Linked DNA regions of Homo sapiens. The protein of the gene in region 7 purifies or fractionates together with the protein of the main gene of each other region. This does not show direct contact. Each region holds a gene or a part of one and is shown on either strand. Other genes may lie near its edges.

Region 1 (3,500 bases), on a different chromosome or scaffold from region 7:
AGTCATTGCGGTTTTTGGCATTACTTTCAATGTCAAAAAATGCAATTACTTTTACACCAACCTAATAGGATGGTAGCAGCTTAGATGAAAAGAATATTTAGAAATTCAAGTTGACAGAACTCAGTGATTGGATGGGGGAATGAGAGAAAAGTGTCAAGGATGACTCATAGGTTTCTCACTTTTGCAGTATGATGAATAGTGGTACCATTCCGAGAGATATAGCACACACTGGCAGAGGGCCTGGATTCTTGTTTCTGGAGGGAATGGGAAGAAATACTAAGTTTGTGAGCTTGAGTTATCTTTGAGACATAAAACAAAAATGTCAAGCAAGCATTGGATACCCAGAACTCAGAGGAGTGTGGGTAGAAGACGAAATTTCGGGAGTCATTGGACTACAGATGATGTAGCATAAGGAGAGAAAAAAGAGGAACAAGGAAGGAGAAAAGTCCAAATAAAGCCTTGAGGATGTTCAGGTTAGAGAAGGAGGCGACTGCAAAGGATGCGAGGCTGAAAGAGTCAGAAAGGCAGAAGGAAAACTAAGAAGCCAAGGAAGTGACCAAAACACTTCAAAAGAACACCAAATGCTGCCTGAAAGCTGAACACTGCTCAAAACAAAACAAAACAGAACAAAACAAAAACTTCCTGAAATTTGTGATAAGAATGGAGATCACTTGTGACTTTAACAAGAACTATTTATGCAAAATAGAAGCCACACTACAGCAGTTTGAGTAAAAGGTAAGGAAGGAAAGACGGCAATTATAAACAATACTCTCAACAAGTCTGGCTGAGGAAGGAAGGAAAGAGCTTGTACCTGGAAAGGAATGAGAGTTAAATAAAATATTCCGCTTTTTCTGTCAGATAGAAGCTACTCAAATTTCTTTAACAGAAGTAAACTATTGACAGGAACAGTTAAATATCCAAGAAGAAAAATGAAAATCATAGGACCTCAGAACCAAACTGCCAAGTACTGTTTACATCTACACTGTCCAATATAGTAATCAAAGGTCACAAGGAGCTACTACTTCAACACCATTGAAATGTTTGTCTGAATTGAGATGTGCTGTACTGTATGTGAAAAACACACGGGGTTTCAAACTTTGTACAAAAAAAAGAAATTGAGATATCTCATTATAAATGTTTTAATATTCATTATATCTGCAATGAATGTTTTAGACACAGTGTCAAATAAAATACGGTATATTATAAATTAATTTTGCCTGATTCTTTACTTTTTTAAATGACATATGTAGTTCATATTATATTTCTATCGGACAGCACTGATAAAGACCTTAAATGGTAACAGGCCATAATCACAACAACTGCTAGTCCAAACTTCGGACTGGGGTCCTCAGTCCAGACATGCTCTGTGAAGTTTCCTACCTCTTTCCAAGACCGTCAGCCCTATAGCCCAATTCTTGAATTGCAGCTAAATGTTTTAATCACCCCCTTCCTCTCATCTTGGCTACTGCAATGGTTCCATTAAGATGATAATGGGCTTTTACCAAAGTGGTTGTGACTGATACAATGAGAGGTATTGAGATACTGGATGTGTTTCAAACGTATAATTGTTCAGATTTGCTGATAGTCTGGATGGGGATGTATGGACAGAGTAATACCTATTTAGAATGGAGTTGATATTAATGGAGAAGTCTGTGGGAAGGGCAGGTCTCTAATGATTAGGGTCCTCTAAGTCTTTCCCCACTGGAATACTCAAGCCTGCCCTGCCAAACCACCTACGCTCCCTTGCAAAAGTCTCCAAAATGGCTAGCATACCATACCAAATTCTGTTTGAAACTAAACTGATGGAAGAACTAATTCACACTTACCCAACAAAGAACTATCCCACAGGTTTCCAGAATTCTGAACCTAGATGAATATCTAATTTGTGACTATTCAGAAAAAGCACAGAATTTTTTTAAAAATTAAGGCAGGGAAATTTCTGAGTCCAATGATACTATGAGTGTACTAGCCATAATTAGCTTCTGCTGAGAGTCAACATTCCACTAAGCTATTTTTTCTTTTTGGCTTTCCCCCTTCTTCCAATTAGAAACCCCCAAGTTCTCTACCAGCTCCAAGTTTTTCATAATAGCTTTAAGCTAGTGTTGGTAGAGATCCTAGTGAAAATGGAAAAAGACAAAGGAGGGCCTCAGCTGATAGTAGCTTTCATGGTTTAAATGAGACACCACTAATGTTTTTAACTTCAGTATTTTAAGTAATTTTCCTTGTTGCTCACCCTCAGTGGGCTTTCACTTTGTGGAATCAACCCACTAGTTCCCTACCCCTTTGTACAGTATTTGAAAGACTACTAGTTTTCATGGTTTTACCTGAAGAGCAAAAGCACATTTTTACGCTAAAAATGAAAGCTGTTTTCTTAAGTTCTACTATTTAACAAACCAGTATCTGCAATTTTACCTGTTTGCCTCATTGGAGAACTAATTTGTAGAATGAAACCCTATCTTGAGTCCATCTCCCAAACCTGCCCTTCTCACAGACTTCTCCATTAATATCAACTCCATTCTAAATAGGGGGAAAACCCTAGTATTACTCTGTCCATACATCCCCTCATCCAAACCATCAGCAAATCCCAACAATTCTACCTCTGAAACACATCCAGCATCTGAACACCTCTCATTGTATCAATCACTACTACCTTAGTAAAAGTCATTATCATCTTAATGGAACCATTGCAGTAGGCTTCTAACTGGTTTCCTGCCTTCTACTCTTGCCCCCTTACAGTATATTCTCTACACAACAATCAGCGTGGTATTTTGAAAACATAAGTCAGATCATGTCAAATCTGTGCTCAAAACCCTACAATGCCTTCCCCTAAATCACTCAGAGTAAAATCCTAAGTCTTTATCATGATCTGCAAGGTTCTGCGCTATTTGGTCCTCACTACCCCCTGACTTTATCACACTGCCTCATCAATTCGGTCTTGCTGACCTCCCTGTCTCTCCATCACACCAAGCACACTCCCATCTCAGGGTCTTGGTATCTGTTGTTCCTCTGCCTAGAGTGTTCTTTCCCTGGTATCTGCATGGGGGTCACCCCTTTCTAGAGCCTGCTCACATATCAGAGGTCTTCCCTAACAATGCTAAAACAGCATCACCCAGCCATCATCTAGCCACCTTTAATTTTCCTCGCCCTGCTTTAATTTTGTTTGTTTATTGTCTCCTACCGCTAGAATGAAAGCCCCATGACTTTGTTTTGTTTACTGCTATATCCCCAGCATTTAGAACAGTGTTGTTGTTGATGTTCAACAAGGATTTGTTGAATAACTAGGTTCACATTTATTTCACTTCAGCATAGGACTATACTATAGACTTCCCAAATATATATATGTAACATATAATGAAATATCATTGAAAGCAAACACACTCCACACATAAGAACCAAGAAACTCTATTTTGGTCCTTTAAATTCTAGTCTCACAGGATTTTAAAATGTATGAACATAAATACACACAGAGAAGATATCAATTTAGCAGTGTACTGATTTTT
Region 2 (3,500 bases), on a different chromosome or scaffold from region 7:
TGTCTCCGGGCCCTACTTCCCCACTCTCCTGGGCCTCAGCCTGCAGGTGCTGGAGCCACCCCAGCATGGAGCCCTGCAGAAGGAGGACGGACCTCAAGCCAGGACCCTCAGCGCCTTCTCCTGGAGAATGGTATGGCTGTGAGAGAGGCCCAGGGGCTGCAGCCCAGCTCTGGGGGCAGAGTGGAGGGAGCCCTGGGGACTCCCAGTCTGGGGGTTATACACAGAGAGGAGACGGGGAGTCACATTTCAGAAGCACCTATGCTTTAAATACCATATATCTTTTCTTCCTCACAACTCCTCGGAGCCAGAACTTATGGTCCCCATTTTCTACCAATGGAAAATGAAGCCCTAAAAGAGTCAGTCTCCTCCTGCACCCAAAGGCAGGGCATGAAGGGTGCTGCTGGGGCCTGACTGCCAGCCCTGGGCCTGCCCCTAGGTGGAAGAGCAGCTGATCCGCTACGTGCATGACGGGAGCGAGACACTGACAGACAGTTTTGTCCTGATGGCTAATGCCTCCGAGATGGATCGCCAGAGCCATCCTGTGGCCTTCACTGTCACTGTCCTGCCTGTCAATGACCAACCCCCCATCCTCACTACAAACACAGGCCTGCAGGTGAGAGCATCCCTGGGAACACCCCCATGTCTGCTTCGAGAAAGAGGCCAGCGTCCCCTACTTCGCGGCTCAGAGCTCCCCCAGCTCTGATCCTCAGTTTCCTCCTCTGCAAAATGGGGACGCTGCCACATGCCTCACGGGGTTGTTGGAAGGAGAGAAGTGAGATTGTGCTGAAATAGAACACAGGTGGGAAGTTTTTTTATTGGATGTTTGCAAGTATGGTAGGCAGACTTCTGAGCGGCCACGGGTGGCTCTGCTGTTCCTTCTTCTGTGGCTAAGGACCAGAACATCTGACAGAATCACTTACAAGCCCTTAAGGGCAGGCATCAGGGCGGAAGCTGTTAAGTTTCCCACCTTCACCCAGCAAGTGAAGGCCATGGCTTGGCTCCCCAAACTCCTGCACAAGGCTGTTCCACGCCCAGCAGGACAGTGCAGGGAAGGCCCTGGTGAACTTCGCTCAGGCAGAGGTAAGGGCCCCACTCTGCAGGTGGAAGTTGAGGCCCAGACGTGGGATGGAACTTCTCCATGGTTGCAAAAGTAGTTCTGGTGGAACAGAAAGGGCATGGCTTTACAAAGCCCACATGGCAGGGCTTTGAACCCCAGCTTCTGGGGTGCATCCTCCCCGGTCAGCAGGAGCCACTGAAGTTTCCATAAAGGGCTGACTTGGGCTGTCTCTGGCATGGGGTGCCTGGGGCGGGGGTGGGGGCGGGGCCTTGGTGGTCTAGGATGTGCCCGTAGCGGGTGGCCTGGTGGTGCGGAAGCCGCCAAAGAGTGGGACACAGTGCTCTGGAACCACAGGCCAGGACGGCTGTGTGGCAGCACAGCCACCAGGTGGTGCCATCTACCTGTGTTTGCTCCAGAAGCCTAGTGCTGGGGTCCTGCCCCGCAACATTATGGCCCCTCCTGCCAGGGCTGGGCCTGAGGGCTCCCTGGGGCCGGGGGAGGAAGCCCAGGAATGCCAGAAGGCTCTGTTTTCCGGGCATGTGAGTCCCACTGCAGCTCTGCCCGCAAGTAATTGACCCAGCAAGACTGGTACCAGGACCTCAGGAACAGGCACCTGCTCTGCTTGCAAGTGGGAGGCCTGAAAAAGGGGTCCCCTTTGCCCAACATAAGGAGGGCCCCTAACTGCTCTGGAAGCACCTGGGCCCATCCCACGCTGATTCTGTGCTGCAGAACAGTGCCAACCATCAGCCCCCCACTCTCTGCGCCACGCACCCCTCCCTCAGCTGGAAGGAGGGCCCATTTCTAAAATCACCATTCCCACCTGTGCCCGGCCCCGGCCAGGCACACACGGAGGCTCTGAAAGGAGACCCCTGTCCCACCAGTGAGACAGATTAGGGAGCACTGTTGGTCAGCGCTGGGGGTTTCTGGGAGTGAGAACTTGGTGAGGGTAAGAGCTGGGGCCTTCCTGGGTAGGGGACATAAGCTGGCCTTGAGGGACACACAGGACTAGGGCAGATGGAGAGCAGGGAGGCTGGGCCTGGAGGGTGACCTTCCCTGGGGCCTTCCCTGGGGTGACAGGGAAGGTGAATGCGGGAGGCCCTTTGTGCAGGGGAGCCAGAGTGGCGCCAGCCTCGATGCCACCCGAGGGGCTGAGCCGCAGCAGGACTGGAGCCCTGGTGGCAGCCCAGGGCCGGGGAGGAAGGGGTGGGTGAGTGCGGCAAGGCAGAACCTTCACAGGCCTGTGTTCCCAGATGTGGGAGGGGGCCACTGCGCCCATCCCTGCGGAGGCTCTGAGGAGCACGGACGGCGACTCTGGGTCTGAGGATCTGGTCTACACCATCGAGCAGCCCAGCAACGGGCGGGTAGTGCTGCGGGGGGCGCCGGGCACTGAGGTGCGCAGCTTCACGCAGGCCCAGCTGGACGGCGGGCTCGTGCTGTTCTCACACAGAGGTGGGTGCTGAGGGCCGGGCCTCGGGTTCCTGCTGCCCACGGGGGTGCCCTGAGATGGGGAGCCGGCTCGGGCCAGCTGGACCCAATGCCCCTGTCCCCAGGAACCCTGGATGGAGGCTTCCGCTTCCGCCTCTCTGACGGCGAGCACACTTCCCCCGGACACTTCTTCCGAGTGACGGCCCAGAAGCAAGTGCTCCTCTCGCTGAAGGGCAGCCAGACACTGACTGTCTGCCCAGGTGGGTGTGCTGATCATGGGCATTCCTGGGTGCCAGGAGCTGGGGCGGAGCTGAGGGTGGCATGCCAGGGTCACGCTGCCTCTTTGCAAACACAGGCCTGGACCTGGCTCCCAGTCAAAATCTGATATCCCCTTTTGCCTCTGGCAGGGTCCGTCCAGCCACTCAGCAGTCAGACCCTCAGGGCCAGCTCCAGCGCAGGCACTGACCCCCAGCTCCTGCTCTACCGTGTGGTGCGGGGCCCCCAGCTAGGCCGGCTGTTCCACGCCCAGCAGGACAGCACAGGGGAGGCCCTGGTGAACTTCACTCAGGCAGAGGTAAGGGCCCAACTTTGCAGCCACCACTCAGATGCCCCCAGCCTCAGGTGGCCGCTGTGCCATGGACATCATGTGGACATGGATGCCAGCTCCAGCATCACTGGCAGCAGACGTTCCCGGGCCTGCCATTGTCCAGGCGCTAGTGTCCTGTCCTCCAGGAGCCGCCAGGCTGGCAGGGCAAGTTCATGTTCCCAGAAGGAGGGAGAAGGATGCAGAAAGTCGGGGATACAGGGCCCTAGAGCAGGGCTGGGGTCTTGGGGTATAGCTTCCAGAAGGAAGCTACAGCCGGACCCGAGGGTCTGGAGAGGGGGCACCATGTGGGGGCACTAGTGGTACCCCAGTAGCTGATGAGGGGCAGTGCTTGGTGGGGGATGGAGTTGGACGTGAAGCAGCGGCTGGGCCTGTGGGCAGAGGTGTGAGCCTGGGGCTCAGGTCAAGTGCCAG
Region 3 (3,500 bases), on a different chromosome or scaffold from region 7:
CTTCAGCTGTGTTTCAGAGGCCAAAACTGTGGTCCCGCTGGGAGCAGCCTGAGCGTCCCTGCACGAGGCCCACAGCTGACGTTCACGGACGTGCTCGCAGCAAGCATGACCCAAAGTGGACTGCAGAGCACAAGCCAAAACCACATAATCTGGAAAAGATCTTTGACTGGGTCTTTGTTCTTCTGTGTCTGGATCCGTCTTCACAATGACAGAAATAACAGAAGCAACAACAAGAAGCAGGGCAGGCACAGATGTTCAGCGTCAGTCTGGAATCATACGGAACCCAGGAACACTTGGATGTGAGAACCCAGCACCAAAACTGGGCTCACGGATCAACAAAAATAACCCGGGCCTCACCGACCAAAATCAAGTAGAATAGCGGTTGGGTCAAAGGAGAGAAAAATAGGCTTGGTTGCTAACCAAACATTCGAGTTTTGCCAAAGGTTTAATTATCAAAAGACTAGAAGGCACCGTAACATCTAACACCTTTCTCAAAAAGAAATTAAATGTAGTCATCAATAGCAGAGGGTTCCATCCACATGTTGATGGAGCTAACCGAGGGAGCCCATCTATCTCCAGAGTGAGGATGTAAAACGAGGGAAGAGCGCTCAGGGCGGCCAGCAGGCTTCCCTGAAGGAAATGTTTTGCATTGTGTTTGTCTTCTGAGGGCTGGCTCCTATAAATAAACAAGTGCAAGAGCCAGGTGCAGTGGCTCCCACCTGGAATCCCAGCACTTTGCAAGACTGAGGCAGGAGGGTTGCTTGAGGCCAGGAGTTCAAGACCAGCCTGGGCAACATAGCAAGACCCTGTCTCTACAAAAAGGAAAATAAAAAATTAGCCAGGTGTGGTGGCATACCCCTGTGGTCCCAGCTACGCAGGAGTCTGAGTGGGAAGATCACCTAAGCCCAGGAGGTCAAAGCTGCAGTGAGCTATGTTTGCACTACTTCACTTCGTCATTCCAGCCTGGGTGACAGAGTGAGACCCTGTCCCATACATACACACATAATACATAAAACAAATGAGCACTAGAGAACCCAATGGCGTTTAGAGAGAAACACATGCCTGGTATGGAGGCCTGTTCTGGCAGCAGGGCTCCTGTGCCAGCCCCTATGATGCCTTTGCTGTTAAATAATATGCAGCGGGGGACAAGACGTGGTGGCTCACACCTGTAATCCCAGCACTTTGGGAGACTAAGGTAGGTGGATCACTTGAGGCCAGGAGTTTGAGACCAGCCTGGCCAACACGGTGAAACCCCCTCTCTACTAAAAATACAAAAATTAGCTGGCTGTGGGGGCACACGCTTGTAGTCCCAGCTACCTGGGAGGCTAAGGCAGGAGAATCACTTGAACCCGGGATGTGGAGGTTGCAGTGAGCCGAGATCACGCCACTGCACTCCAGCCTGGGCAACAGAGTGAGACCCTGTCTCAAAACAAAAACAAAAACAAAAATAACATGGGTGGGGCCACACACTGGGGGTTGGCTCAGTCTCAAGCACATGCACTGCCCTGTCCCCCTGGCTGGAGGGAGGGCTTGGACTTACCATTGTCCTCCGGTGCTGGGGTTGGCTCATTCTGCAGGGCCAGGGGCACCACCGCTCCTGATGGGCCAGGAGGGCCGGGGGGGCCCTTGGGGCCTGGCATGCCTGGTACCCCAGGCAAGCCTGGCAGTCCCCGAGGTCCAGGCACCCCAGGCTCCCCAACGGTGCCCTGAAGTCCCTGGAAGCCAGGAGGGCCCTGAGGGCCGGGGAGTCCCTCTTTGCCTGGTGGGCCCGGGGGGCCTGGGTCCCCACTGGAGCCCTGAGGGCCGGGCTTCCCAGGGGAACCACGGGAGCCTTTGGGGCCCTGGGAGCCTTTAGATCCTTTGCCGCCACGCTCTCCGGGGGGACCAGCTGGTCCAATTGGGCCTCTCTCACCCGCAGGGCCAGGTGGTCCAGGCTCCCCCTTCTCTCCTTTCTGTCCCTTGTTGCCAGTTGGGCCAGGGGGTCCCTGGGATCCTCTGTCACCTCTTGGACCCCTGGGGCCCGGTGGACCTAAAGCATAAAAGAAAAAGGTGTCAACATGAAATCCACTGTGAATGATAGTTATGAATAATTTTTCTTCTTATAAAATCTCCAAATTAAAAAAACCTAGCATACAAAGTATATACAGCAGGGAAAGACCATCTGTTTATCATACTACTGTAGACTGTTATGGGCTAAATTATGTCCTCCTCCAAATTCTTATGCTGAAGTCCTAACCCCCAGCACCTCAGGATGGGACTTATTAAGAGACACGGCCTTTACAGAGGTCATCGAGTTAAAACGAGGTGACATGAGTGACCCTAATCCAATAGGACTGGTGTACTTAAAGAAGAGGGGATTAGGTCACAGACACATAGAGGAAAGATCGCTTGAGGGCACAGGGAGAAGATGGACTCCTGCAAACCAAGGAGGGAGGCCTCGGAGGAAACAACACTGCTGACACCTTGATCTTGGACTTGCGGCCTCCAGAACCGTAAGGAAAGAAATGTCTGTTGTTTAAGCCTCCCAGTCCGTGTACTGTGTACTGTGTATATGGCAGCCCAAGCAAGCCAATATACTGTGTGTTCTTCAGTAAGCTCACCCTTCTTCTTCAAGCTTTTAGAATGTATTGTAACAGTGCACAACGTTTTAGTGCCCCACTGATGTCCTTCATGGTGACACTGACAGCCAGGGGCTTATTCTTCACAGTGACTCACATGATTAAACTGGGTTCTCTTAGTCACCTGGGCCTGTGTTGTCATCAGCAGGAAAGTTGTGTAGACCAGGATCAGGATTTCCTCTTACTTATTTCCTCTTGTCCTTAATTTGGTAAATATTTATTAAAGGCTTATATGACAAGCACCGTGTTAAGGTATTGTGGGATAAAGAACTGAAGGAGATTGATGTATTAATTCTCTCCCCATAACCAAGCCTATAACTTCCCTGTAAGCTTCCTCTCTGTTGTACCCCAGCTGGCATGCCTGTGCTGTCCACCAAAGCTGTGGGGGTGCTGCTGTCCTTAGGGCTGGGCCTCACTCACCCATGGGCCAGCTCAGAGGGACGGGAGGTCTCTGTGGGAAAGCCTGGTGGGACTTTGCTGCCCATTGTGGACAGGTGTCCAAACTCTCTGGGTGGGTTTGTAAGTCTAATAATACACATAAGGAAGGTAGGCTAGAGAAAAAAGGTATGTGGACCATCTAATTGGGAAGAAAAGCGAATACTGCTCATCCCCATTATCCCACAAAGAGGCCCATGTAACACAGGATTGTTTTTCTTTCTTTAATTTCTCAGGGGTAACAGGAAATTTCACACAAATAATCTCCTACCAGGAACTGTATAGTGAATGACAATTTTCAGGGTACTTTCACATACATTATGCCACCTGACCTTGCCTGTGCGGTAGAATTCTCATTGCATAAATGAGGACATGTAGGGCCAGAGATGCCAAACTATTTGTTCGAGGATACTTAGCTACTAGGAACAGATACCAAGGAGAGTAAGA
Region 4 (3,500 bases), on a different chromosome or scaffold from region 7:
TTCTCACTATTGTCCTACCATCCTCTCTCACCTGGAATACTCTAATAGCCTGCAAGATCTGAACACTGCCTCCCTTTTTGCCCTTATTTCCTACTGGCTTTTTTGCAGTTGCTGGAACATGCCAAGTTGATTCCATTCTTAGGGTCACTGTACTTGCTCAAGTTGTCTTTGCCTAGAATAATAATCTCCCAGATCTATACAGGTATGTTCTCATCCTTTGGGTCTCAGCTTTTATTTTTCTTTTTTAGTGACAGGATCTCACTCTGTCACTCAGGTTAGAGTGCAGTGGCATGGTCATAGCTCACTACAGCCTTGAACTCCTAGGCCCAAGCAATCCTCCCACCTCAGCCTCCCAAGTAGCTAGGACTACAGGTACACACCACGATACCTGGCTAATTTGTTTTTATTTCTTTGTAGAGACAGGGTCTTGCTATGTTTCCCAGGCTGGTCTCGAACTCCTGGGCTCAATCAATTCTTCCACTTCTGCCTCCCAAAGTGCTGGGATTACAGGTGTGAGCCACCATGCCTGGCCTCAGTTTATATGTCACCTCCTCACAGAAACCTTCCTTGACCATCCCAACCAAATAAAATAACACCTCCTTCCCAGCATTCCCTATATCCTTATCTGGCTTTATTTTCTTCATAGCACTTCAGACTTCTGAAATTATATTACTTATAAGCAAAACTATTATTTACAGTCTTTCTTGTACTTATTATATTTCCATTATCAAGAACGATGCTTAGCACATACAGTAGAGGTTCAGTAAATTCTTGCTAAAATGAGTAATAACCCAATTTCTACCCAAAATCAGTGGATTAAGACAGAGTTTTAAACAGCATTCTAGGTACCATAACAGAAAGGTTTAGAGTATTCTGAGAGTGGAGAATACACTGCAGGCCAACGTGAAGTAGGAAGCTGCAACGTTAATAGAAAGGGAAAAGGTAACTCAGGCAAGTGAAAGATCACAGTATAGTCCAAGACCCAGGAAAAGGTCACACTAGGTTCCAAGGGTGAAGTTGTAGGAGATAAGGCTGGAGTGAAGGATTAGTTTTTATGCAATTCCAAGAAGTCACGAGTTCATCCTCTAAGCTACAGTTACCAAAGGCCTAACTTCCAAGGCAGGAAAGGGCAGGAGGTTTGCCATTTCAGTGGTACAACTAGGTAAGAGGTGGTGCTTAAAGGACATACACAGACAAATCTAAGATGAAATCTGAGAAGGATCACACAAAAGGAAGGATGATATACAGGAAGATGGAGAAGAAAATGGAAAGATAGGAAGCAGCAAAAAATCTGACTTTGGGTTTTTTAGATTTGAGATTTTTATAATATGTCCAGATGGTGTGTCCAGCAGGCAATTAGAAATGTGGTTCTCAAGTACAGGAGAGAAGCCAAAATTGGAAAAATAAATGGGGCAGAGTGAAAGGTCTACAGTACCTCATTCTCTGCTGAATTCCATTTATATGTTCAATAAACGTTTGTTGAATATGTGCTTTATCTTCCTAACTAGATTAAAATTATTCAAGATGTTCTACACTTTTTGTGTACTATCATAATACCTAGCATAGAATTAGGCACATACAGGAAGTATCTAATAAAGTTTTTGATGGACAGAATGGTTTTTATTTTAAAAAGTTATTTTAACAAAAACTTTTCCAAGAAGAATTAGCTTTGACTTTTGTTGGACAAAAATTTTTGTTTCTTTAAAAGACATTTGAGGCCGGGCACAGTGGCTCACACGTGTAATCCCAGCACTTTGGGAGGCCAAGGCGGGTGAATCGCTTGAGGTCAGGAGTTCGAGACCAGCCTGGGCAACATGGCAAAACCCTGTCTCTACCAAAAATACAAAAATTAGCTGGGTGTGGTGGTGTACACCTGCACAGCTGTAACTCAGCAAGCTGAGGCACAGCTACTCAGCAAGCTGAGGCACAAAGAATCACTTGAACCCAGGAGGTGGAGGTTGCAGTGAACCAAGATCGCGCCACTGCACCCCAGCTGCGGCAACAGACCGAGAGTCCGTCTCAAAAAAAAGACAGTTGAGGCCGGGCACGGTAGCTCACGCCTGTAATCCCAGCACTTTGGGAGGCCGAGGCAGGCGGATCACAAGGTCAGGAGATCAAGACCATCCTGGCTAACATGGTGAAACCCCATCTCTACTAAAAATACAAAAAAAAAAAAAAAATTAGCCAGGCATGGTGGCGGGCGCCTGTAGTCCTAGCTACTCAGGCAGCTGAGGCAAGAGAATGGCGTGAACCCAGGAGGCGGAGCTTGCAGTGAGCCAAGATTGCGCCACTGCACTCCAGCCTGAGTGACAGAGCGAGACTCTGTCTAAAAAATAACATAAATAAAATTAAAAAAAAACAGCTGATACATTTGATACATTGCTGGTAGAAATGTAAAATGGTGCCAACACTGTGAAAAACAGTTTGGTGGTTCCTCAAAAAGTTAAACACAGCACTGCTATATGACCTAGTAATTCCGCTTATACTCAAAGGACTAAAAACTGTAACTCGAACAGATATTTGTATACTAATGTTCATAACAGCACTATTTACAATAGCCAGAAGGTGAAAACAATCCAAGTGTCCATCAACAGATGAACAGATAAAGCATGGTATAACCATAAAATGGAATATTATTTGACTATTAAAAAGGAATTAAGTTCTGATACTCTTCATCTACAACATGGAGGAAACTTAACACCCTTATGTTAAGCAAAAGACAGACACGATGCAAACAAATAAAAAATAAAAAAAAAGAGCTGGATCTAAAAAAAAAAAAAGGACACAAAAGGACAAGTATTGTATGATTCTACCTATACAAAATATCTAGAAAAGGCAAAATGGGCCAGGCAGGGTGGCTCATGCTTATAATCCCAGCACTTTGGGAGGCTGAGGAGGGAGGATTGCTTGAGCCAAGGAGGTCAAGGTTGAAGTGAGCTATGATCATGCCACTGCACTCTAGCCCAGGTGACAGAATAACAACAACAACAACAAAAATATATATATACACAGAGAGAGAGAGAATAGGCATATACATAGAGAAAGAAAATAGAGTTTACTGGGTACTGGGGGAAGTGGTGTTACTGGTTACAGAGTTTCCATTTCAAGTTTTGGAAATAAATAGTAGTAATGGTTACACACCATTGTGCACGTACTTCATGCCACTGCATTGTACACTACATTAATATTAGATGAAGGAGATTTCAGGGACAAAAACTTTACAAAATGCAAACTAATCAGTCCTCAAGTTCATTTCCTGACACCTCCACCAAAAGAAAGAAAGAAAAAAAGTTTATACTAATTTATAGTGACAGAAAGTAAATCAGTGGCTATTTCGGGATAGGAAGTAAGGTGGGGTAGGAGAGAGAGATTACAAAGGGGCATGAGGAGATTTTGGGGATTGATGGATATGTTCACTATCTTGATTGTGGTGACAGTTTTATGTATATATATAGAGAGAGTACCTTTGAAATATGTACAGCTTATTGTATGTCAATTAT
Region 5 (3,500 bases), on a different chromosome or scaffold from region 7:
AAGACAGCGTTTCCCCATGACATTGGGACAGGAGTTAGCTCTTCTAAGTCTGCTGTCTTCATCTGCTTATGTAGATGGTAACTTACAGGCCTTAGCTTAGCACTTATGTGTCAGCCACTGTAATAAGCATTTATATGCACTATCTGTATTCTTCAAAAATGACCTTGTGAAGTAGGTATTATTATCCCCATTTTATGGGTGAGGAACTTGAGGCTCAAGGAAGTTAAGTAGCTTTCTCACAGTCACTCAGCTAGGAAGTGGCCAGATTCCAAGTCTAGGTGGGTCGTGGGAGCTGGGCCATCGACAGGGCAAAGGTGGGCTGGTTTCAGAGAAAAGCTAAAAGGACTGGTTCTTCTCCCCGCCAGGATTCCCCATTGAAAGCTGTGCAGATGTTGTGGGTTAATCTGATCATGGACACTTTTGCTTCATTGGCCCTGGCCACAGAGCCCCCTACGGAATCTCTGTTGAAGCGGCGCCCCTATGGCCGAAATAAGCCTCTGATCTCACGCACTATGATGAAGAACATCTTGGGCCATGCATTCTATCAGCTCATTGTCATCTTTATCCTTGTCTTTGCGGGTGAGCCACTTTGGGGGTGGGTAGCAGCTGGGGTCCTGGTTGGAGGTGGGGGCAGAGAAAGAAGGTAGCGTGAGAGCAAGTGCACAGGTCAGGAATAAGCGCAGCTTCACCTCCCAGTGCTTGCTGTGCTCCCGCTACACGGTGCATTATGCTACTATATGTACTCATACAGTACTCTTGAGTACAGTGTGTACTGTGTGTACTCAAGAATTTCACAAGGGAGGCTTTATTATTTCTTTCTTTCTTTTTTTTTTTTTTTTTTTCTTTTTGGAGACAGAGTCTCGCTCTGTCACCCAGGCTGGAGTGCAGTGGCGCTAACTCGGGTCACTGCAACGTCTGCCTCCCAGGTTCAAGTGATTTTCCTGCGTCAGCCTCCCAAATAGCTGGGATTACAGGCATGCGCCACCACACCCGGCTACTTTTTGTATTTTTAGTAGAGATGGGGTTTCATCATGTTGGCCAGGCTGGGCTCGATCTCCTGACCTTGTGATCTGCCCACCTCAGCCCCCCAGAGTGCTGGGATTACAGGCATGAGCCACCACGCCTGGCTTATTTCTTTTTTTACAGATTCAAAAAATTAACCTCAGGTCCCATAATGAGTACATAGTTGCAGTAAAATTCAAACCTATGATTGCCTGACTCCAGCGCACATAGTCTTACTACCATGCTGCACTACATGAGAGCAAGTATCAATGCAGCAAACTGAGAGAGAAGGTAAAATAAGTCAAGACCAGAACTAACATTTAAAATGTTTAATAACTAGTACAACAAAAAATTAGCCAGGCATGGTGGTGCACGCCTGTAGTCCCAGCTATTTGGGAGGCTGAGATGGAAGGATCACTTGAGCAGGAAGGTCCAGGCTGCAGTGAGCCATGATCATGCCACTGCGCTCCAGCCTGGGTGACAGAGTGAGACCCTGTGTCAAAAAAATAAATAACTAGTGCAGCTCAGATATTGATTAATTAGAATGGACACCAGCCATAAGCAAGCAGTATATCTGTACCAACACATTCTTACTCTTAGTTCAGACCACACTTAACCTCCAGTGCTTCTCCTCTCCCCACTAGGTGAGAAATTCTTTGATATTGATAGTGGGAGGAAGGCACCTCTACATTCACCACCCAGCCAGCACTATACCATTGTTTTTAACACCTTCGTGCTGATGCAGCTCTTCAATGAAATCAACTCCCGAAAGATCCATGGAGAGAAGAACGTCTTTTCAGGCATCTACCGCAACATTATCTTCTGCTCTGTAGTCTTGGGCACATTCATCTGCCAGGTGAGATTCTATCTGCAGTTGGGGCAGGAGATCTGGAATGATAAAGGGCAGAAGCTGGGAGCCAGGGTTCCCTACATACCTAGGAAAAGGAATGAAGGAATTACGGGGACTGGAGCTGTAAGTTGAACACTTTGGGATTCCCAATCTGCTTTCTTTTGCATATTGCTCTAGAATTGGAGCCCATTGTGTCAAGAGCTCCAGTGCAGGGCAGCATGTTGACTGGAAATAAAATAATACTTCTAAAATCCTTTCATGATCTTTCTAAATACACAGAAATTTCACAGAATGACCAAAAGAAGTATTCTCTTCTAGTCCCTTTCTATGGCTCCTGTCAGCCTATATGAAATGTGCATGCACATCTAGTATAGACTCTCCCTGTCCCTGCCCTTTGTTCTGAAGGGCTTATGATAAAAAGTGTTGTGCAACTCAAAGAAAGAGAAGTAATGGGATTTGTACATGTATATTACATAGTCAGCCCAGCTTGGACTCCTCCAATATGAGACTATGAGCTGATCATGTCCCATCCCTCAGCAGGGCACCTCCCTTTATTTGTCCCCATCCTCAATTCCTTTTTTTTTTTTTTTTTAATTTTAAAAATACAGATGGGGTCTCACTCTGTTGCTCAGGCTGGTCTCAAACTCCTGGCCTCAAGCAATCCTCCCGCCTCCCAAAGTGTTATTACGCCTGCCATTTTTTCTTTTTGTTTTTTTTTTTTTCGTTTGAGACAGATATCTCTCTCTCTCTCTCTCTCTCTCTCTCTCTCTCTCTCTCCCTCTGCCTCTCTCTCTCTCTCTCTTTTCCCCCCTCCCCCAGGGGGAGTGCAGCCTCAGTCTCCCAGGTTCAGGCAATCCTCCCACCTCATCCTCAGTTCCTAACTCCATCACTGTACCTTCTCCTTGTCACTAACTGGCTTTAGTCACAAGAAGCCACCAGCTCCCCTAACTCCTCCAGATTGTCTGTTAATCATAGTCACAGTAACTATGTCTGTCTCCCCATCAGAGTGCTCTTAAAGGCTGTTTTTGTCTGTCTCCCCTTTGAGATTTCTTCTTTTCCCTTCCCCTGCAAGCAAATCGGGACTTGTACCCAAGGATCCTGAGGAGTGGGATGATGTGGCTTTGGGGGCCTTGGCTGGAGGGCCAGCTGCCTGTTAGTCATTTCCTTGATGGTGGGCTGCCCCTTTCTCTGTTCTAGATTTTCATCGTGGAATTTGGGGGTAAACCCTTCAGTTGTACAAGCCTCAGCCTGTCTCAGTGGCTGTGGTGTCTCTTCATTGGGATTGGAGAACTTCTGTGGGGCCAGGTGAGTACCGGCACACCCTCCTGGTGCATTCTCACAGCCTGCAGAACTCCCCTCCTCTACATGAGATGGAACAAGCAACGGTGGAGACCCCCCAGCTCCTCATCTTCATCTTCTCCTCTTCCCTCCCCACCCCCACTCAAGTTTTCAAGTTCTTGCCATCTCATAGGATCTCAAGGTGGAATGATCACTTCAGAGGTTTCAGAATTCTTCTCTAACTAAGCCTGGAGGTAGAAAAATCCCTTAGCTTGGCTGGGCGCAGTGGCTCACACCTGTAATCCCAGCACTTTGGGAGGCCGAGGCAGGCAGATCACGAGGTCAGGAAATCAAGACCGTCCTGGCTAAC
Region 6 (3,500 bases), on a different chromosome or scaffold from region 7:
GTTCAGGAAACAAGAGACTTGGCTGATTGACAGTGAGTTGGAGAGGGACCTCTCTGGGGCTTGGGGACAGAGGAGGGGTGATAGTGAGTCCAAAGAGCATGTGCAACGGGTCGCATGGCGATCAATGTCCAGGACACACATTCCTAGTGTAAGTGATAACCTGCAGAGGGTGACTGTGCATCAACACACAGCGGCACGACTTAAGCAAAGACAAAACAAAAATGAATAACAAGAAAAAAGTTCCTACCTTCTAATGCCCAAAATATGTTAACAGGCTTGGAGAAGACATCCTTGCTTTTCACCCAGCTGTTGTTCCGCTGTTTGGTCCAGGCAGACACAACACAGTAATAATTGCCTCTGTCTTCCTCTGTAGTCCTTTGGATCCGGAAATTGAACGTGTCTGTATGTTCCTTAGAAAAAATAAAGTCTCCATCCTGGGCCCGCTGCTTGCTCCTCTCTCCATATTTTAGCGTCCAGTCCCCGTCCATGACTGCAAGCAGCTCGCTGGTCACCACATTGTCGCTGCGCCGGTTCATCCTGTAGTACCACGAAACCGTGAATCGGACATTCGCCTCCCCACTCTTCGTGTCCACCACCCGGCATGCCAGCTCTGTGGGGTCATCCGCAAACCCGGGGACCTTGGAAGCATTCAGGTACACCTGGTAGTCTGGTTCTGAACGAGAGACAGAAAGGCCAGGATAGGAAAATAATTAGAGTAACATGGCAAGAATTAACAAAAGGAATGAGACAAGGACTGCTCTTGTTTTAACAATTAAATGCTTCTCCTGCCGGACTAGAGAGACAGAAATCAGTCGTTGCATTGGATAGGATCCTAGAACAGTGTTTTTGCAAAACTTGTAAAACACCGCTTCTCATACCTCCCACCCCAAGAAAACCTCCCAAGAACAGAAGCCCAATGTCCTCGGCCAGAATCTTGATCCTTCCATGGCACTGGGGTCTGCTGTCAGTTTCCCCAAGAGGTTAAGGTCTTCTGAGAAGAATCTCTTAAGAAGCTCAGTGTCCACCCCCTACCAAGATTGCTCTGGAATGCCAAGTAAGCCCACAGACCTCCAACACCCCCACTGGAACAGTATCGGAAAACCCCACCCAACAGTAAATTCCAGAACTCGAGGCCCATCAGTGGCACAGTGGCTCAGCTTCCTGTCATCCTTGGCCATGCCCTAAATGCAAGGCCCTCAGGTCATCATTCCCCCTACATATTTATGTCCTCACTTTACCGTTCCTCTGACTTTTTCTGCGGAATCTGTGTTCAGTGGTCAATAAGCACTCCCATCCTCAAACTCTCCCACAGACATTCTCGCTACTGCCACATGTAACTCACCTGTGTCACTGTGAATCTTGCCCTAGTGAGCACCCCATGTCCCTGCAGAGAAGGGTGGGAGGGAAGCCAGCATTCTCCTAGCATCCCCTTGCCTCTGCCACGGTCCTGTTTCCACTGGGAGAAAAACCCCTCCTTCCTCTGGGGTTCACTGCATCAATTTAATCCATTTCTGCACCTCCATGGTTCTGTCCTCCTTTGCCCCAAGGCTTCCTCCATACCTGCCAAGGAGCTGATGTTGGAATCCTCTTGTGGCTTCCTCTCCTTTCCCCCAGCTCCTCTACACCTGATTACTCGAGGTTCTCCAGTCTCCACACAGTCTCACGCCACTGTGATGATGTGAGATGCACTACAAACTTCCACTTATTCTTCAATGTCACCTGGTCCTGGGTCCCCAGAAGGGATATACTCTGTGCTCCCATAAGCCATCTATGCACTTTTGTATGCCAGTTAGCCCACTCCACAATGACTCTTTGCTTATAGTCTCATCCTCAAGCTCCAAATACACTGCCTTTTATGCAGTAGGCACTCAGTAAATGTTTACTGCCTGAATGTTCAGGCTTTTAGAAAAGGCTACATTTTTCTTCTTCTTCTTCTTTTGTTTTTTTTTTGGACAGTCTTACTGTCCCCAAGTGGAGTGCAGTGGCGCGATCTCAGTTCACTGCAACTGCCTCCCAGGTTCCAGCGTTTCTCATGCTTCAGCCAACCAAATAGCTGGGAATTCAGGAACATACCACCACACCCAGCTCATTTTTGCATTTTTTTAGTAGAGACAGGGTTTTGCCATGTTGGACAGGCTGGTCTCAAACTCCTGACCTCAAGTGATCTGCCCACCTCAGCCTCCCAAAGTGCTGGGATTACAGGAACGAGCCACCGCACCCGGCCTATAAAGGGCTACGTTTTTCTTCCATAGCACTTTGCCTTCTGGGAGAAAAATAATACTACCTAAACAGAACTCTCCATTTATCAACATTATCTTTATCTGCATCACCTTGATCAAAGTTTGGTTTTATTTAACATTGTTTTCATTTATGACATACAGATTACAAACTGCTGAGGTCAAGGAACTTTTCTTGTGATTTACACTTCTAATGGAATTTATAACATCATGATTTCTCCAAGAATGATTCAGTGGACCAGAAAATGCAAAGAACTCAAAATCCTAATTCCTCAAATGTCATCTTCACAAGTATTTAATTGCTTGTGCCCATCCATGGGAGTACATCGTACTGTGATGTGGACACCATAGAGAAATCCACAGGCTGTGGGACTGCCAGGGCTAGAGAGGAATCCACTGGCCATTCTGACTGCTCATTTTACAGGCTCATATGCTGTCACACTGCTAGGGGATGTCCTGAACCTGAGCATGGTGCTAATACACCACACCACACATCACCCTAGCAAAAACTGACTGAAGGACACACACCACCCAACTGTGTTTACACCATCATATGCAAAAGATAAGGAATGCTCAAATTACTCCACATCTAAACTTTCATGTCGAATTCAGGATGCAGCAATGTGGGTGCAGAGCAGGACAACTAAGTCCATCTCATGTGGAAAGGGCAGATTTGCACCAGCTGTGCATAGGGTAAGACTGCCCCAGAACACTGAGCATCAACTATCTGTAGGCAGCAGCCAGCAGTGGCTCTTACATGGAGCCTCAAGTCCATTTCAAGCACAACACATAAGACCCTTCCTGTGTGGCATGAGACTGTGTGGGGACTGGAGAACCATAACCCTGAACAGCAAACTGTGAGGCAGCAGAGAACAGTGGTGAGGAGCTGAGGTCTGGAGCCAGACTGTGTTCAAATCCTGGTTCTGCCACTTACTTGCTATTGACCTTGGGTAGATTACTCAGATCTCTGGTGCCTCACCCATACAAATGGGGATGACAGTAACTAGCTCATAATGTTATTGTGAGGGTTAAGAGTTAAAATATACTGTACTTAAAATGCCTAGACTGGTGCCTGGTGTGTGTGTGTATGCAGGTACACACATATTCATATACACATACACGTGTATATATTTGTGATCATTATTCACAGTTCCCATTTCTGAGGGGAGAGCTTTAAAGAAGTTAGTGACTTGGCCACACAGTTCAAAAGTGGCAGATGGGAACGGAGCCCTGTCTTCTACCACCTTTCAAGTGCATCCTTAG
Region 7 (3,336 bases):
AATTCTGTTTTAAACCAAAGACCAGTTATTAAAATGATTAAAGCTGTACATTTGCACTGTGTAAAGAACATGTAATTTTCTAAAAAGCAAATAATTTCATAATACAGTACCTAGGAAATTTTTCTGAATGGAAAGCAAATAAATCAGAATGGGTTCAAACTGGAAAATATCCTATGCCTGATATTCTATGTACTATCACAAAATCTAAAGGTAAGCAAGACAATAGATGTTGAATTTTTTGCCTCATTGTCTTCGATCATATTTCCATTCATCTGTAATGCCCCTACAGACTCATGAAAACCCTTCGAGGTTTTCTTACAGAGGTTTAGAGCCACTCTGAGGACACTTTATCCCTTACTATAGATAATGGTTATCTCTTTCCTGCTCTTCCAGTTTGCTTTCAATACCTGGTAAAGGCAAGCCAGCTATATAGTTAACAGCCATCAAATACCTGGCTTCCTCATAATTAACCAGAAGCCCTAGTTCCTCTAAAACAGCAAGAATGAGATAAGGTAGTTAATATTCAGTATCTTGTTGCTAAGTTGTAAAGTCATGATAGTAAATGTGGTAAACATTCTATGATGTGAGCCAGAACCAATGAAATTGCTAGTTTAGCTTTTTGACCCTGTTCCTTCTCCCTGGAGGTTAATGCAAACACAAGTCCTCTTTGACTAACCCCATCCCTGAGTTTCTCAAAGTGCGCTCTATAGAGCGGTAACACCAGAGTCATCAGTAGGTATTCGTATTTTAATCTGCACTCTAGACCAACTAACAAAGATTGTCTGTGTATTTTGATTCACCCAGTAACAGTCACATTCAACCACAAATGATCTTCCAGTGATTAAATTTGTAAGGAAAAAACAGCATAGAATTTGTATTTGACTAAATATACAATGTTGTCATCTCTGTCACCTTAAGCACTTTTTTTTTCTACACAGTTCGTCATATAGAATTTGCAGGACTAAGCAACAGTTTTTTTTAAGTTTACTACCATTAACCATTTCAACCAGAATTAGTTTTGATCTGCCAGTCTCAATCTACATCTCTAGCATTATTAGAACTAAACTTTCCAGTGAAATGACTCTAACAAGACAAGGATACCAAACTGGGTATTCAGTGTGCGTTAGGGGTTGTGGGAGGAGGAGAGCAGATATTTAATAAATCATGAGTGCTGTGTGCACAGGATAAGGTGTGCTGGGTTCTATGTGATGTTGGGAGGAAATACGGATAAGGACATAGGTAGAGGATGTATATATTTTGTAATTTGCTATGAGACGGGCATTATTGTACGGGGAAGTTCTGTGCTTACAGAAATTGTCTAGGCTGTGTGGAAAGATGGGTTGGCTTAGGATAGTGACTACCATTGCAGAAGCAGAGGAGGCTGGCTGAGGTGGAGGGAATGAGCATTTGAATGTGAAATTATCAGATCAGAAGTGAAGTCCATCTCTTGATTGCAGGATGTGGAGCAAGGTGACAGACACTGAGACTGTTTATGGATTCTTGCATAAACCTGTGTACATGGCTTGAATTTGTGCCATTTAGGTACTGTCCATAAGACCTAGAGACAGTTCCACTAACCTTAGGGGCAGGCATCTCAGATGGTTTCAGGACATGGCCAGCTTCCTTGTATGATATGTAAGTACTACATAACCAGTGGTGACAACCAGGGCCAAGCAGCCCAGGACAGCCATAATTAGCATGTATTTTCCTAAATAAAGCCTCACCCCATCCTAGCCCACCTCATCAATCAAACTACTTCCAATAGTAAAGGTTGATTTATAATGATGAAGTTTTTAACTTGTAGAATCTCTTCAAACCCATAAGCAAATAGTATCTGCTCAAAAGACGGGTTCCCAGGCCTGCCACTGATCATCTGTAGAACCTGAACCTCAGTTTTGTCTATAAAAAGGGGAGAGCAATATTCCTTATCCTGCCTTCAGCCATGAAGATTAGCTGACATAATACATATCAAAGTATAGAATAAGGTGTGTTACCGTTTACTATGAGTGCCATGATGCTTAGCAAAATTATATGGGAATATGTATGGATTTATGGGATAATCCTATATGATGGTATAGCCAAGATTCTAAATATGTAGTTTTTAAAATTTTACTAAAATTCAAAATAGCACTGTAAGACAGGGCAAGAAGAAAAAAAGTAGGCCATTCTTTATTCAAAAACCAATCTACAAATAGAGTAGACTTGTTAATTTTGCTCTCCTTACCTGTTTGCATTGGGCTTCACCGTGCCCAGAATTGTTATCAGCATGCGAGGCACCACTCCCCCAGGCAAAGGCAGGTTATAAGGCACAATCTGGGAATTAACAAGTACATATGTGTCAATAAGGAGTCATGTTTCTTTGGGGAAAAAACGATGTTGCTAAAGTTCCATCACTATTAATATGTGTGAAAAACACATAACTCTAGTATATGCCATCTGTCCAGACTCTCAGGCCACTTTGCCCAGGGGCCAAAGAGATAAGGCTCCCTAGATGTACAAATAATTGAAAAGAAAGCCATCAGTAAATCTCATTACTACGGCCATCCCAATTTGTACTCATTCATGTTGACTATTTTTGGAAAGGCTTAAGCTAGATCTTGTGATCAACATTAACATTTTTGTATCACTCTTAAGGCCCTGTCATGGTACATGCTTTACTGTGGATATTCTGCTTCCTGGGGGCAAGCAGCATATCACATTCTGGGCTTGTGGGTTCTCATATGCTTTGTACTCACATGGCTCCAGCAGAGTGCTTTGCATATGGCAGATACTCAATATTTATGGAATGAACACTGTTAACACTGTGAGGTTCATTCCACAAATGTTTATTGACCAACTACATTCAAGGTACTGTGAATATCCCCAAAGCTCTATTTATTTATGGCCTCTTTTCTTTCCCTTTTTAAGACTTCCCCCTGGGTTTAACTATCACCCAAACCTTTTTATTTTTTGAGACAAGGTCTCAAAAATCCGAGTCTCAGTTGTTGAGGATGGAGTGCAGTGGTGTGATCATAGCTCACTGCAGCCTCAACCTCTTGGACTCAAGTGATCCTCCTGCCTCAGCCTCCCACAGTGGTGGGATTACAGGCATGAGCCACCACACCCAGCCTATCCAAATATTTTCTTTCTAGTCCTGGTGTGTACTAGTCCTGTACTTCCTCCCACCTAGATTTGCTGCTAGTGCCTCAAATTCAACAAGTGTGAACTAGAATGGTCTTCCCTACCCCCTCCCCCATCAGTTCCCCTTCATGAGTTCCCAGTTTGGGCTAAAGCTTTGCTGATGGCTCTAGTTGCTCAGCCTTGAAAAGTCAGAGTCCTCTATGACTCCTAAGACAT

The links.
Region 1: the proteins of LGALS3 (region 7) and SLC12A2 purify together in Homo sapiens (affinity purification with mass spectrometry; 5 studies listed by BioGRID and IntAct, with this or other methods). This does not show direct contact.
Region 2: the proteins of LGALS3 (region 7) and CSPG4 purify together in Homo sapiens (affinity purification with mass spectrometry; 4 studies listed by BioGRID and IntAct, with this or other methods). This does not show direct contact.
Region 3: the proteins of LGALS3 (region 7) and COLEC12 purify together in Homo sapiens (affinity purification with mass spectrometry; 4 studies listed by BioGRID and IntAct, with this or other methods). This does not show direct contact.
Region 4: the proteins of LGALS3 (region 7) and SLC26A2 purify together in Homo sapiens (affinity purification with mass spectrometry; 4 studies listed by BioGRID and IntAct, with this or other methods). This does not show direct contact.
Region 5: the proteins of LGALS3 (region 7) and ATP2B4 purify together in Homo sapiens (affinity purification with mass spectrometry; 4 studies listed by BioGRID and IntAct, with this or other methods). This does not show direct contact.
Region 6: the proteins of LGALS3 (region 7) and PTGFRN purify together in Homo sapiens (affinity purification with mass spectrometry; 4 studies listed by BioGRID and IntAct, with this or other methods). This does not show direct contact.

What each region holds. Positions count from the first base shown.
Region 1 is NC_000005.10:128,090,266-128,093,765, reverse strand, and holds part of SLC12A2 (solute carrier family 12 member 2), read right to left. Parts: intron 1-3,500. UniProt on the Homo sapiens protein: Cation-chloride cotransporter which mediates the electroneutral transport of chloride, potassium and/or sodium ions across the membrane. Plays a vital role in the regulation of ionic balance and cell volume.
Region 2 is NC_000015.10:75,681,849-75,685,348, reverse strand, and holds part of CSPG4 (chondroitin sulfate proteoglycan 4 precursor), read left to right. Parts: coding exon 1-130; intron 131-436; coding exon 437-613; intron 614-2,307; coding exon 2,308-2,506; intron 2,507-2,607; coding exon 2,608-2,742; intron 2,743-2,889; coding exon 2,890-3,056; intron 3,057-3,500. UniProt on the Homo sapiens protein: Proteoglycan playing a role in cell proliferation and migration which stimulates endothelial cells motility during microvascular morphogenesis. May also inhibit neurite outgrowth and growth cone collapse during axon regeneration.
Region 3 is NC_000018.10:333,202-336,701, forward strand, and holds part of COLEC12 (collectin-12), read right to left. Parts: intron 2,030-3,500; coding exon 1,541-2,029; intron 1-1,540. UniProt on the Homo sapiens protein: Scavenger receptor that displays several functions associated with host defense. Promotes binding and phagocytosis of Gram-positive, Gram-negative bacteria and yeast.
Region 4 is NC_000005.10:149,967,258-149,970,757, reverse strand, and holds part of SLC26A2 (sulfate transporter), read right to left. Parts: intron 1-3,500. UniProt on the Homo sapiens protein: Sulfate transporter which mediates sulfate uptake into chondrocytes in order to maintain adequate sulfation of proteoglycans which is needed for cartilage development.
Region 5 is NC_000001.11:203,720,832-203,724,331, forward strand, and holds part of ATP2B4 (plasma membrane calcium-transporting ATPase 4), read left to right. Parts: intron 1-365; coding exon 366-579; intron 580-1,646; coding exon 1,647-1,858; intron 1,859-3,049; coding exon 3,050-3,157; intron 3,158-3,500. UniProt on the Homo sapiens protein: Calcium/calmodulin-regulated and magnesium-dependent enzyme that catalyzes the hydrolysis of ATP coupled with the transport of calcium out of the cell. By regulating sperm cell calcium homeostasis, may play a role in sperm motility.
Region 6 is NC_000001.11:116,958,416-116,961,915, reverse strand, and holds part of PTGFRN (prostaglandin F2 receptor negative regulator precursor), read right to left. Parts: intron 674-3,500; coding exon 248-673; intron 1-247. UniProt on the Homo sapiens protein: Inhibits the binding of prostaglandin F2-alpha (PGF2-alpha) to its specific FP receptor, by decreasing the receptor number rather than the affinity constant. Functional coupling with the prostaglandin F2-alpha receptor seems to occur.
Region 7 is NC_000014.9:55,139,252-55,142,587, reverse strand, and holds part of LGALS3 (galectin-3), read right to left. Parts: intron 2,314-3,336; coding exon 2,225-2,313; intron 5-2,224; coding exon 1-4. UniProt on the Homo sapiens protein: Galactose-specific lectin which binds IgE. May mediate with the alpha-3, beta-1 integrin the stimulation by CSPG4 of endothelial cells migration.